Linked DNA regions of Homo sapiens. The protein of the gene in region 1 interacts with the protein of each later gene in a pairwise test. Each region holds a gene or a part of one and is shown on either strand. Other genes may lie near its edges.

Region 1 (3,380 bases):
ATTCATAAAACCATCTAGAGACTTGATAGTAAATTAAAGATGTTTCAAAACAATAATGTTTCCTGGAAATCATGCCCAACTCTGTTGCAGAAGTGGGAAGAATTTGAAATTTCCATGTGACTCTGATTTACTTGCCTATCCTGGGGTGACAGAAAGCAAGTTAAGTAGGTCACCCTGGCCTTTGGTGAAGGTAAATGTATAAGAAAATAGTGCTTACTTTACAGACTTCCGGACTCTCCGTCCAATCTGGATGAGCAGGTATCCCGGAGAGTGTAAGTTGCTGACATACACAACTTGAAAGCCAGAGCTTTAAGGGACTGCCTGTTGCATTTTTTATCATAAAGGAGTCTAGACTTAAATCTTTCATAACCGAACTCATACTGTAATCCATTACATGTACTTCATATTAGCTAGCGCTTCTGGCATTATGGTGGCAGCTGTGTAAAATATTTGTTGTGCTTGTTTAGAATTGAATTGTAATGTTCTAAAGCGAGCAATTATTCCTACCATGGAAGCTGCCAAACCTCTAATACTTCTATACTTTGCCAGTGTGTCTAAATTGCAGGAGATATTGGTACCCTAAGCAGAACAGACACAACCTTCTCAGACACAGGAGGATGACCCTGTTTCTAAATAGCTGCACAGTCTAGTTCTCTCTCCTGTTTACTCGTTGTTAGTTTAGTTGTCTAAGACTATGCGCTTGCTGAGGACAGTCATTTTTGAATTCTCCAGCCCCTATCGCAGTGTCTGGCATGTGATGAGAGAACAGGAATATTTGTTGAAAAGTGAAAATGCATATTCCATCCCATCCTGCCCCCTTTCCTCCCTCTCCCTCCTTCTTCCTACCCTCACACTAACCTTTGGGTTTTGCTTTCTAGGCAAAGCAGGAAAAATGCCAGCTCGGTCTCCCAGGACTCTTGGGAGCAGAACTACTCCCCTGGGGAAGGCTTCCAGAGTGCCAAAGAGAACCCCAGGTACTCCAGCTACCAAGGCTCCAGGAACGGCTACCTGGGAGGACATGGCTTCAACGCCAGGGTCATGCTGGAAACTCAGGAGCTCCTTCGCCAGGAACAGAGGCGGAAGGAGCAGCAGATGAAGAAGCAGCCTCCTTCCGAGGGGCCCAGCAACTATGACTCGTATAAGAAAGTCCAGGACCCCAGTTACGCCCCTCCCAAGGGGCCCTTCCGGCAAGATGTGCCCCCCTCCCCTTCTCAGGTTGCGAGGCTGAACAGACTTCAGACTCCTGAGAAAGGGAGGCCCTTCTATTCCTGAGCACGCAAATAACGGATGCTTCATGTCGCGCAATAAAAGACATTTTCCTATGAAGACTTGTATTTTGGGAGTTTTTTTAAAACCTCGATGGTACTATGGAGTATTTCTGTTGTTGGTATCAGTGCCTTTAAGCGGTGTAGGCAAAGAAATGGAAGGCCTTAATGTCTTTGCCACTATGTCTCAAGTGTCTGTTTCATGGAAGGATTTCCCACCCTGTGACAATCATCTGTTTGAGGTGTTCATATGCTCTGCGCCTCTCCACAGTACCAGGAATCTCGGCCCTACTCATGAGTTGTCCGCGGCTTGGTTGTAACATCCCTGCACCACTTGCAGTGACAAATTCACCTGAAGTGGAGGATGACGTGCGGCCCTGTTTCTCCCTCTAAGTTCTCTTAGCTATGGGATGACATCTTAGTCTCTGGTGGAGGAAAAGTGGGCGACATACACCAAAAATTGGGGCTTTCTGGTACTTCACAGCACAGCCATTTGTCGTACTTTGTCATCACTGTGGTTTTCTCTTTCCTTTCTCAGCTCTTTGTGACGGGAGAGTCGGTCATCCTATTACAGAAGCTAAGCCATAGTCCAACATTGTTTGGTCACCATGGGGGTCCTTTTGTAACTGCCTTATGACTCAACATTACCAATAAAGTGATGATCCTGGTCTGCGTTTATACATACGCTTGTTCGGTCCTGTTCCTGACACGTGGGTTGAGTCACCACAGCTCTGTGTGGGGAACGTGGGAGACAGGAGTGGCTCCTGCCGGGGGAAGCTGGGCCTGCCATTGGCCCTGTGTCTATCATGAGGGGAGAGCTAAGAAAGAAATTCTCCTAGGAAGAGCTCATGGCCCAGTACATCCTAGTAATTATTTTAATTAGTTTTTGTTCTGACAGCTTGTCAGGAAGGGCACAGAATGGGACAGAGATAAACCAGACAGTCATTTTGATCTGCTCTCTACGGTTTTTCAAGTCAGAGGCAATTGATGCTTGTCTAATGCATCCACACACTGCATGTCTGACTGGCGATGCCGCGCTCCTAAGTAGTTCTGCCATGAAACATAAAAGACAAAGGAAAAGCCGTTACACATCACACAGAGAACATTTTCGGGTCCCACAGCGGTGGTGGCAGGAAGCTCACTCTCGCGTCAGTATTAGAGTGTGTGTGTGGGTCTCGGGGATCTCGGTGGCTCCCATCTTCCTTCATTGTTCTGAACATCCTGTATTGTAAACCATGGCTGGGGTGCTAAAGTGCCTGTGAATCCCGATGTGGAAAAAGCTGGAGGTGAAAGCTCAGCATACCATGTATTTACTTTAAAAACAGAAAAAAAGACATGTATGGATATGTCTATTTTTTTTTTATTGGCACATTGTATTTTTGTGTTGACTTGTTTTTAGAAATGATGTGTCCACACACGTACCCGTGTCTCTTCTGCATTTCTGTGTCATGGTTCTGTTTCTTAATCACGTGCGGCGGTGTCTAAGTGGTGTTACCAGTGTACGCGCAGTGACCTTGGATGACAGTGGCTCTTTCTCACAGCCTCCCCTGAGCTGTGAGAAACAGCTTTCTCTGTACATATGCAACTCCTAATAAAAGGCATATTTCTTCCTGTTCTTTTGGTGTCTCTGGTGTTCCTGGGCAGCCTTGCCTAGCTGGGCTTTTTTAAAAGGTCTATTAACAGATGTGATTTTTTTTTTTTTTTTATATTTAGAGAAAGTTGGAAGTTTCCTCACATCTGAGGAAAGTTTGCAGGAAAGGGGGCAGGAGAACCCTGGGGCCCACTCTTGGATGAGGATGGAGAGGGGGGACTCACCTGTCCCTTGGAAAAGATGGTCCCCATTATGACATCATTCTCACTCTTAGTCCATTAAGACAATATACAGTCTTACAGTTGGAAGTCTCAAAGTGGGAAGTTTGCAAACACAGGAACTGGTGGTTGATTGCGTATTTGAGCACCTGAGGAGAGAGGGGAAGGGGAGAGACAAGAACCTTCATGAGTCCACTGCAAGGCCCAGGCTGCCTGAAGAAGCCTGAGGAGTTCTGAATTGAAGGAGCCAGTACAGCTCGAACTAAATGAATGAAAAATTATGCAGAAAGCGACATGATAGTCCCA
Region 2 (7,000 bases), on another chromosome or scaffold:
ATACCGGTTCAAGAAGGACGGGCAGAGACACCACCTGATCATCAACGAGGCCATGCTGGAGGACGCGGGGCACTATGCACTGTGCACTAGCGGGGGCCAGGCGCTGGCTGAGCTCATTGTGCAGGGTGAGCCTGGCTGGGGGGGCACATGAGGCTTTAGGGCTTGGACCCCTCAGCCCCCACCCCACCTAGCCCTGTAGGGGAGCAGGCAAACCTGGGCTCAAGGCCTCTGTGACCTTGGGCCTTTGACAGCCTAAACCTCATCCTTCTCATCTCTAAAATGACGATGCTGAGGTGACCGCTCCAGAGGGTACTGAGAGGGTCATACGGGCCTGGTGAGCATCACCACCCCTCAGACACTTGAGGTTCCTTATGTGCACTGCACCATCACAGGCAAACATGGCACACACAGGCACACGTGTTTTCACATGCCCACATGCACCCAGACACGTGCGCACCAGCGCCCATGGGCCCACACGCCCTCCACAGGGATTCACGCCACACCCACACACCCTCCCGAGCTCAATGGCTCTGCCCTGCCCTGCAGAAAAGAAGCTGGAGGTGTACCAGAGCATCGCAGACCTGATGGTGGGCGCAAAGGACCAGGCGGTGTTCAAATGTGAGGTCTCAGATGAGAATGTTCGGGGTGTGTGGCTGAAGAATGGGAAGGAGCTGGTGCCCGACAGCCGCATAAAGGTGTCCCACATCGGGCGGTGAGTGTGCAGGGCAGGTGGATGGGACAGGTGGAGACTGAGATGGAGACAGAGAGAGACACAGGGAGAAACAGAGAGAGAGAGATAAAGACAGGTGGACAGAGAGGCAGATGCACAGAGACAGGACAGAGACTGAGACAGAGACCCACAGAGAGGGAGAAACAGACAGACCCAAAAAGACAAAGAGACAGAAAGACAGAAATAGTTCTATAGAGACAGAAAGATATGCACAGGGAGGCACACACATAGGAGAGTTCGTCAGAGACAGAGAAGAACAGAGGGACAGAGACAAAGAGGCAGCAGGGAGAGACACGGACGGGGTCGAGCGCTCCCCAGCACCCTCCCCCAGCTTGTGACCAGGGCAGGGCAGGAGGCCACCAAGGAGGCCGGCTCTGGCCAGAGGCCCTCACTGCCTCTCCCGCCCTCTTGCTCATCCCTGGAGCAACTGGGCTGGCCGTGCTGGGCCCAAGTTCACAGAGATTAATGAGACCCAGCCCCTGCCCAGTCTCCAAGGGCCCAGCCAAGGAGATGCTTTGATGTAGAAATCACTTTTACGCTGCCTACCTCTGAAGGCACATTAAAAAGCTGGAAAATTAGATAATATAGAAAAAAAAAGGCATTTTTAAAAATCAGAATACCAACAAGCCAGGACAAGGTGAGGGCCTCCTGGGACCCTGGCTGGGGTATCTGGCAAGGCCAGGGGTGTGTGGCCCAGTGGGGTCCCCTGAGCCACTGCTCCCCTGCAGGGTCCACAAACTGACCATTGACGACGTCACACCTGCCGACGAGGCTGACTACAGCTTTGTGCCCGAGGGCTTCGCCTGCAACCTGTCAGCCAAGCTCCACTTCATGGGTGAGCCTGCTCCAGGGTAGGGTGGGTCGGGGCAGTGGGGCCAGGAGCCCCTGTCACTGGGCCCTGCCTTTGCCCCCGTGCTACTTGCTCTTCCTTCTCTTGCAGAGGTCAAGATTGACTTCGTACCCAGGCAGGGTAAGTCTTGGGGCCCCTGAGTCTTGGTTCTGCTCACTTTCCCGCAACCCACCCACGCAGGCCTCCCCTCCACTCACAGAGGGAAGAGCAAGGATCAAAAGTGGGGGTCCTGGGGCCCAGCTTCAGCTTTGCCACTCATGACCATGGGTCAATTATAATCTCTGTGAGCCTCAGTTTCCTCTTCTCTAAAATGGGAACCCTGATAGTGCCACCTCATAGGATAGTTATAAAGATGAGGTGACATGATGTATCAGACCTGTCAAGTGCTGTCACATGTGTGACTGTTATTATTACATCTTTTCTTCTTCTTCCTTTTTTTTTATTTTTATTTTTTTTGAGACGGAGTCTCCCTCTGTCGCCCACGCTGGAGAGAAGTGGCGCGATCTCGGCTCACTGCAAGCTCCGCCTCCCAGGTTCACACCACTCTCCTGCCTCAGCCTCCTGAGTAGCTGGGACTACAGGCGCCCGCCACCATGCCCAGCTAATTATTTTTTGTATTTTTAGTAGAGACGGGGTTTCACCATGTTAGCCAGGATGGTTTCGATCTCCTGATCTCATGATCTGCCTGCCTCGGCCTCCCAAAGTGCTGGGATTACAGGCGTGAGCCACTGCGTCCAGACTGCTTTGCTTTGTTTAACTGAGGGCAGATTCCTGATTTATTTGGCCAGGGAACCTTTTTAATGTGTGCATGTGTGCGTGCATGTGTGCGCGCGTGTGTGTGTGTGCATGTGTCTGTGTGTGTATGTATATATGTGTGTCTGTGTCTGTGTGTGTGCGTGTATGTATGTGTATTTGTGTCTGTGTGCATGTGTGTGTCTGTGTGTGCATGTGTGTATGTGTATGTGTGTCTGTGTGTATGTGTATATGCGTGTGTGTGTGTGTATTGTGTGTGTGTGTATGTGTGTGGCAAGACACTGATGTTCCCCCAGTTTTCAAAATGCTATGCTAGGTGACCTGACCTGAATATTACAAGCCTCCCAGCCAACGTCCTGGGGTGATGGGAATGTTCCAGATCTTGGTTGGATTAATAATTGCATGGGTGTATTCATCTGTCAGAACTCAGCCTACTGTCAGATCTGAGCATAAACTATACCTCAATACAAATCTAAAAAACCAATAACCAGGGGCCCAGGCTCTTGAGCAGCCCCGCCCCAGTGACCTGTGCTCCTCCTGGCTCTCCCGTTTCTCTGAACTACATTGTGTCTTCTGCAGAACCTCCCAAGATCCACCTGGACTGCCCAGGCCGCATACCAGACACCATTGTGGTTGTAGCTGGAAATAAGCTACGTCTGGACGTCCCTATCTCTGGGGACCCTGCTCCCACTGTGATCTGGCAGAAGGCTATCACGCAGGTACTGTGGGTCCCTCCTCAGTCTCCCCATCTATAAGATGGGTGTGTGGAACCAGCCAAGTGCTAGGACCTGCTGCACACCCCACCCACATGTGCACGCCCTGCTGTTGGCTACCCCATGGGAGAGACTGGTCAGGGGGCAGGCAAGGTGGGCAGTGTGGGTCAGGGGGTGGAAGAAGCAGCAGAGGGGCGCTTCCAGGCTGAGTCAGCTCCTCTGCTCCCTACTTCCCTCCTGCCCTGTTCCCAGGGGAATAAGGCCCCAGCCAGGCCAGCCCCAGATGCCCCAGAGGACACAGGTGACAGCGATGAGTGGGTGTTTGACAAGAAGGTGAGTGAGACTGAGGTCAGGAGGAGGCTCGTTTGTCTTTCATCACTTTCTACCTACGTGGTGCCGAGCCCTTGGCGAGGTCTCCATGGAGGTGCCACACTTGGCCGGGTGTGTTGCTGCCCCCAGCAGGGTCCCTGTGGGGCCCTCACACCTCAGGCAGAGGGTCTCTGTGAAGTGTGCTGATGGCCATCACAAGGATGTGGACACCCTCTCATTGCCAGGAAGCCCTCATGACTGGGCTGCTCCCTGGCTCCCTTCATCCTAAGCTGACCTTGACCTTGACCTTGTGCTCCCTCTCAACTCAGGAGTAGTTTCTGAGACACTTTTCTGCCAGTGTAGCTGCCGGGGTCTTGCTCCTGCCTGGCACTGTTGGTTCTTCTGAAGGCTGGGGTCTTGAGGGGTCCTCATGATAGCTCATCTGAGAGGACAGGTGGTTGCCCCAGGTCCCGTGACAAAGCTAGAACCCGAGCCCCTGCCCTCAGTCGGTGCCACAGAGATGATTTTGAACTAGATGCTGACGTGGATGCAGTCTTCCCACAGGCTGTGTTCCCCCCATGGACCCCCGGGACATCTGGCTGTTGGCGGAGGCTGCAAGGGCCTCTGGGGTCTGACTTGGATCTCACCCCAACTCTGCACCCCCCCAGCTGCTGTGTGAGACCGAGGGCCGGGTCCGCGTGGAGACCACCAAGGACCGCAGCATCTTCACGGTCGAGGGGGCAGAGAAGGAAGATGAGGGCGTCTACACGGTCACAGTGAAGAACCCTGTGGGCGAGGACCAGGTCAACCTCACAGTCAAGGTCATCGGTGAGGCCGGCCGGGGTCCAAGCTGGAGAACACAGAGGGGCAGCCCCAAGGAGGGCCCATCCGTTCGCTCATTCAGCCACTCGACAAACATCACGGGCATGCTCCCTGAGCCGAGCGGCAACAGGACAGGTTTTTCTGCCCAAAAGGAGCCCCGCTCTGGGGGAGATGGAGGCAGATGCATCCAGCAGATTTCCTGCGACACTGCTGTACATGAGCCATGTCCAGAGTGCCGTGGGAGCACTGAGCAGAGAGCCATCCCTGTGCCTGGGGGTGATGCCTTTAGGAGGCTGAGAAGATGGTGAGGAAAGGCATCCCAGGCAGAGGAAACTGTGTACAAAGGGGTGGAGGAGGGAAAGGGCCTTTTGGGTGTGGAGAATGAATGAAACATGTCAGGAGAGGACTGGGTGGGGTTGGGAGGATCAGAGCCAGGACAGGGGTGAATATGGGCAGTGAGAAGCCTTAAAGGGTTGACGGAGGGCTGGCGACATGATCAGAAATGCATCCTGTTGAGACCCAGCCTGGACAACACAGTGAGACTCCATATCACTAAAAAAAAAAAAAAAAAAAGGAAAAGAAGAAAGAAATGCATTCTAGAAAGATCTCTTTGGATCTGGGGGTGGTGGGGGCAGCCTGTGGCGGTTAGTTGGAGTGGGAAGGGGACGAGCAACGTTACTCAAGGCCCTGAGCGGGGCAGGGCTGATGTGGGTCCATCCCACCCCATCCAGACGTGCCAGACGCACCTGCGGCCCCCAAGATCAGCAACGTGGGAGAGGACTCCTGCACAGTACAGTGGGAGCCGCCTGCCTACGATGGCGGGCAGCCCATCCTGGGTGAGTGCAAGGGCACCGGATGGAGGTGTGAGGGCGCCAAACAGATCCGAGGGAAGGTGGTGTGGGGATGCCTGGGTTCCAGACCAGAGCTGCCACCTCCCCTGAGCCAGGCTACATCCTGGAGCGCAAGAAGAAGAAGAGCTACCGGTGGATGCGGCTGAACTTCGACCTGATTCAGGAGCTGAGTCATGAAGCGCGGCGCATGATCGAGGGCGTGGTGTACGAGATGCGCGTCTACGCGGTCAACGCCATCGGCATGTCCAGGCCCAGCCCTGCCTCCCAGCCCTTCATGCCTATCGGTGAGCCTGCCTGGCCTGGTCCTGCCCCCCGCCCCCTCCCCAGTTAAAAACCTCCAATAATAGCAGGTGCTCTGCAGGCAGCCATGCTAGACACTCACATCCACAGTCTCCTTTCATCCTCGACTGGGGATACTCAGCCGCATTTTACAGATGAGGAAACAGGCTCCAAGCAGTTAAATGACCTGCTTGAGATCTCCCAGCTGGTTGGGGTGGAGCTGACTCTCACACTACGCCGACCCCTAGTTCACGTTTCAAGCCTCTCTTTCCATGTCTACAAAATGGGAATAATGACACTGCCTATCTCAGAGAGCTGTTAGGATGATATGGGATGACCAGGCAGGCCATCTGGCATCTAACAGGTGCTCAATAAATGTTCATTGTCCCCTGTTCTCCACACCCTTCAACCCAGGGTTTTCACCTATGGGATGGGGCAAGGGCTGTAGTTAGTGGAGGGGTCTCAGGGGCATCTGTCTGTGGAAAGAGTCCTGGACCAAGACTCAGAGATGGCAGAGGCAGCTCCATGGTCCCCGGGGGGCCAACTGGAGTCATCCCTCCCTGAAGCCTCAGCTTCCTCATCTGTATAATGGGGTCTGAGTGGGCAGAACAGGTGTTGAGACTGTGGCAGGGCTCAGGAGGACACCTGTTCCCACTAGGGTGGGTGAGTCCGGGGGCAGCTGCCTGTGGCAAGGGCAGGCCAAGGACCCCTGGGCCCAGGGATGGGGCACAGCTTGGGAAGATGGCAGGAATCGGGGCCTGTGGGGAGAAGGGTCCAGGCCTCTCGTTTTAGGGACTGATTCCTGGTTTGTTCAGTTCTTAGTCAACTCACCTAATCATACGTGCCAGGAAATTCCCATGTTTTCTGTAGTTTTAGTTTTAGTTTTTTTTTTTTTTTTTTTTTTTTGAGATGGAGTCTCGCTCTGTCACCCAGACTGGAGTGCAGTCCTGGCGCGATCTGGGGTCACTGTAACCTTCACCTCCCAGGTTCAAGCAATTCTCCCACCTCAGCCTTCTGAGTAGCTGGGATTACAGGCATCCACCACCATGCCCAGCTAATTTTTGTATTTTTGTAGAGACGGAGTTTCACCATGTTGGCCAGGCTGGTCTTGAACTCCTGACCTCAGGTGATCCTCCCACCTCGGCCTCCCAAAGTGCTGGGATTACAGGCGTGAGCCACCGTGCCTGGCTGCTGTTGCTGTTTGTTTTTAAGCCAATCTACAGACATGTCTTGTAACAGGGACAAAATATTCCTTAAAGTGGCCAAAAGCCAGCTGAACAGGAAGTGCCCCCTATGTGACCAGTGGGCAGTTCAGAGTCTAGGGCATGGATCTCCAGCTTCCCCAGGCTTGCTCAGACCCCTCTCTGACCTCTCCTCTGCCCAGGTCCCCCCAGCGAACCCACCCACCTGGCAGTAGAGGACGTCTCTGACACCACGGTCTCCCTCAAGTGGCGGCCCCCAGAGCGCGTGGGAGCAGGAGGCCTGGATGGCTACAGCGTGGAGTACTGCCCAGAGGGCTGTGAGTGTCCCCGCCCCCAACCCCCCTCCCCAAAGGAAGAACATGCTCACCTTGCCATTGAGCAGATTCACCTGTAGTCAAGTTTTTTAGGCCCACTTTTGCCGAAAGTTGAGGACACCCAGAGAAATATCTGTCCTGTTTTCAGAAGTAAAAAAGCTTGCCTAGTGAAAAACA

The links.
Region 2: the proteins of PARD3 (region 1) and MYBPC3 interact in a two-hybrid assay, tested with the Homo sapiens proteins (one study listed by IntAct).

Annotation. Positions count from the first base shown.
Region 1 is NC_000010.11:34,109,061-34,112,440, reverse strand, and holds the end of PARD3 (partitioning defective 3 homolog), read left to right. Parts: intron 1-878; coding exon 879-1,272; 3' UTR 1,273-2,880; downstream 2,881-3,380. UniProt on the Homo sapiens protein: Adapter protein involved in asymmetrical cell division and cell polarization processes. Seems to play a central role in the formation of epithelial tight junctions. Targets the phosphatase PTEN to cell junctions.
Region 2 is NC_000011.10:47,335,703-47,342,702, reverse strand, and holds part of MYBPC3 (myosin-binding protein C, cardiac-type), read left to right. Parts: coding exon 1-125; intron 126-546; coding exon 547-712; intron 713-1,458; coding exon 1,459-1,565; intron 1,566-1,670; coding exon 1,671-1,700; intron 1,701-2,912; coding exon 2,913-3,052; intron 3,053-3,298; coding exon 3,299-3,379; intron 3,380-4,023; coding exon 4,024-4,183; intron 4,184-4,908; coding exon 4,909-5,013; intron 5,014-5,123; coding exon 5,124-5,312; intron 5,313-6,691; coding exon 6,692-6,826; intron 6,827-7,000. UniProt on the Homo sapiens protein: Thick filament-associated protein located in the crossbridge region of vertebrate striated muscle a bands. In vitro it binds MHC, F-actin and native thin filaments, and modifies the activity of actin-activated myosin ATPase.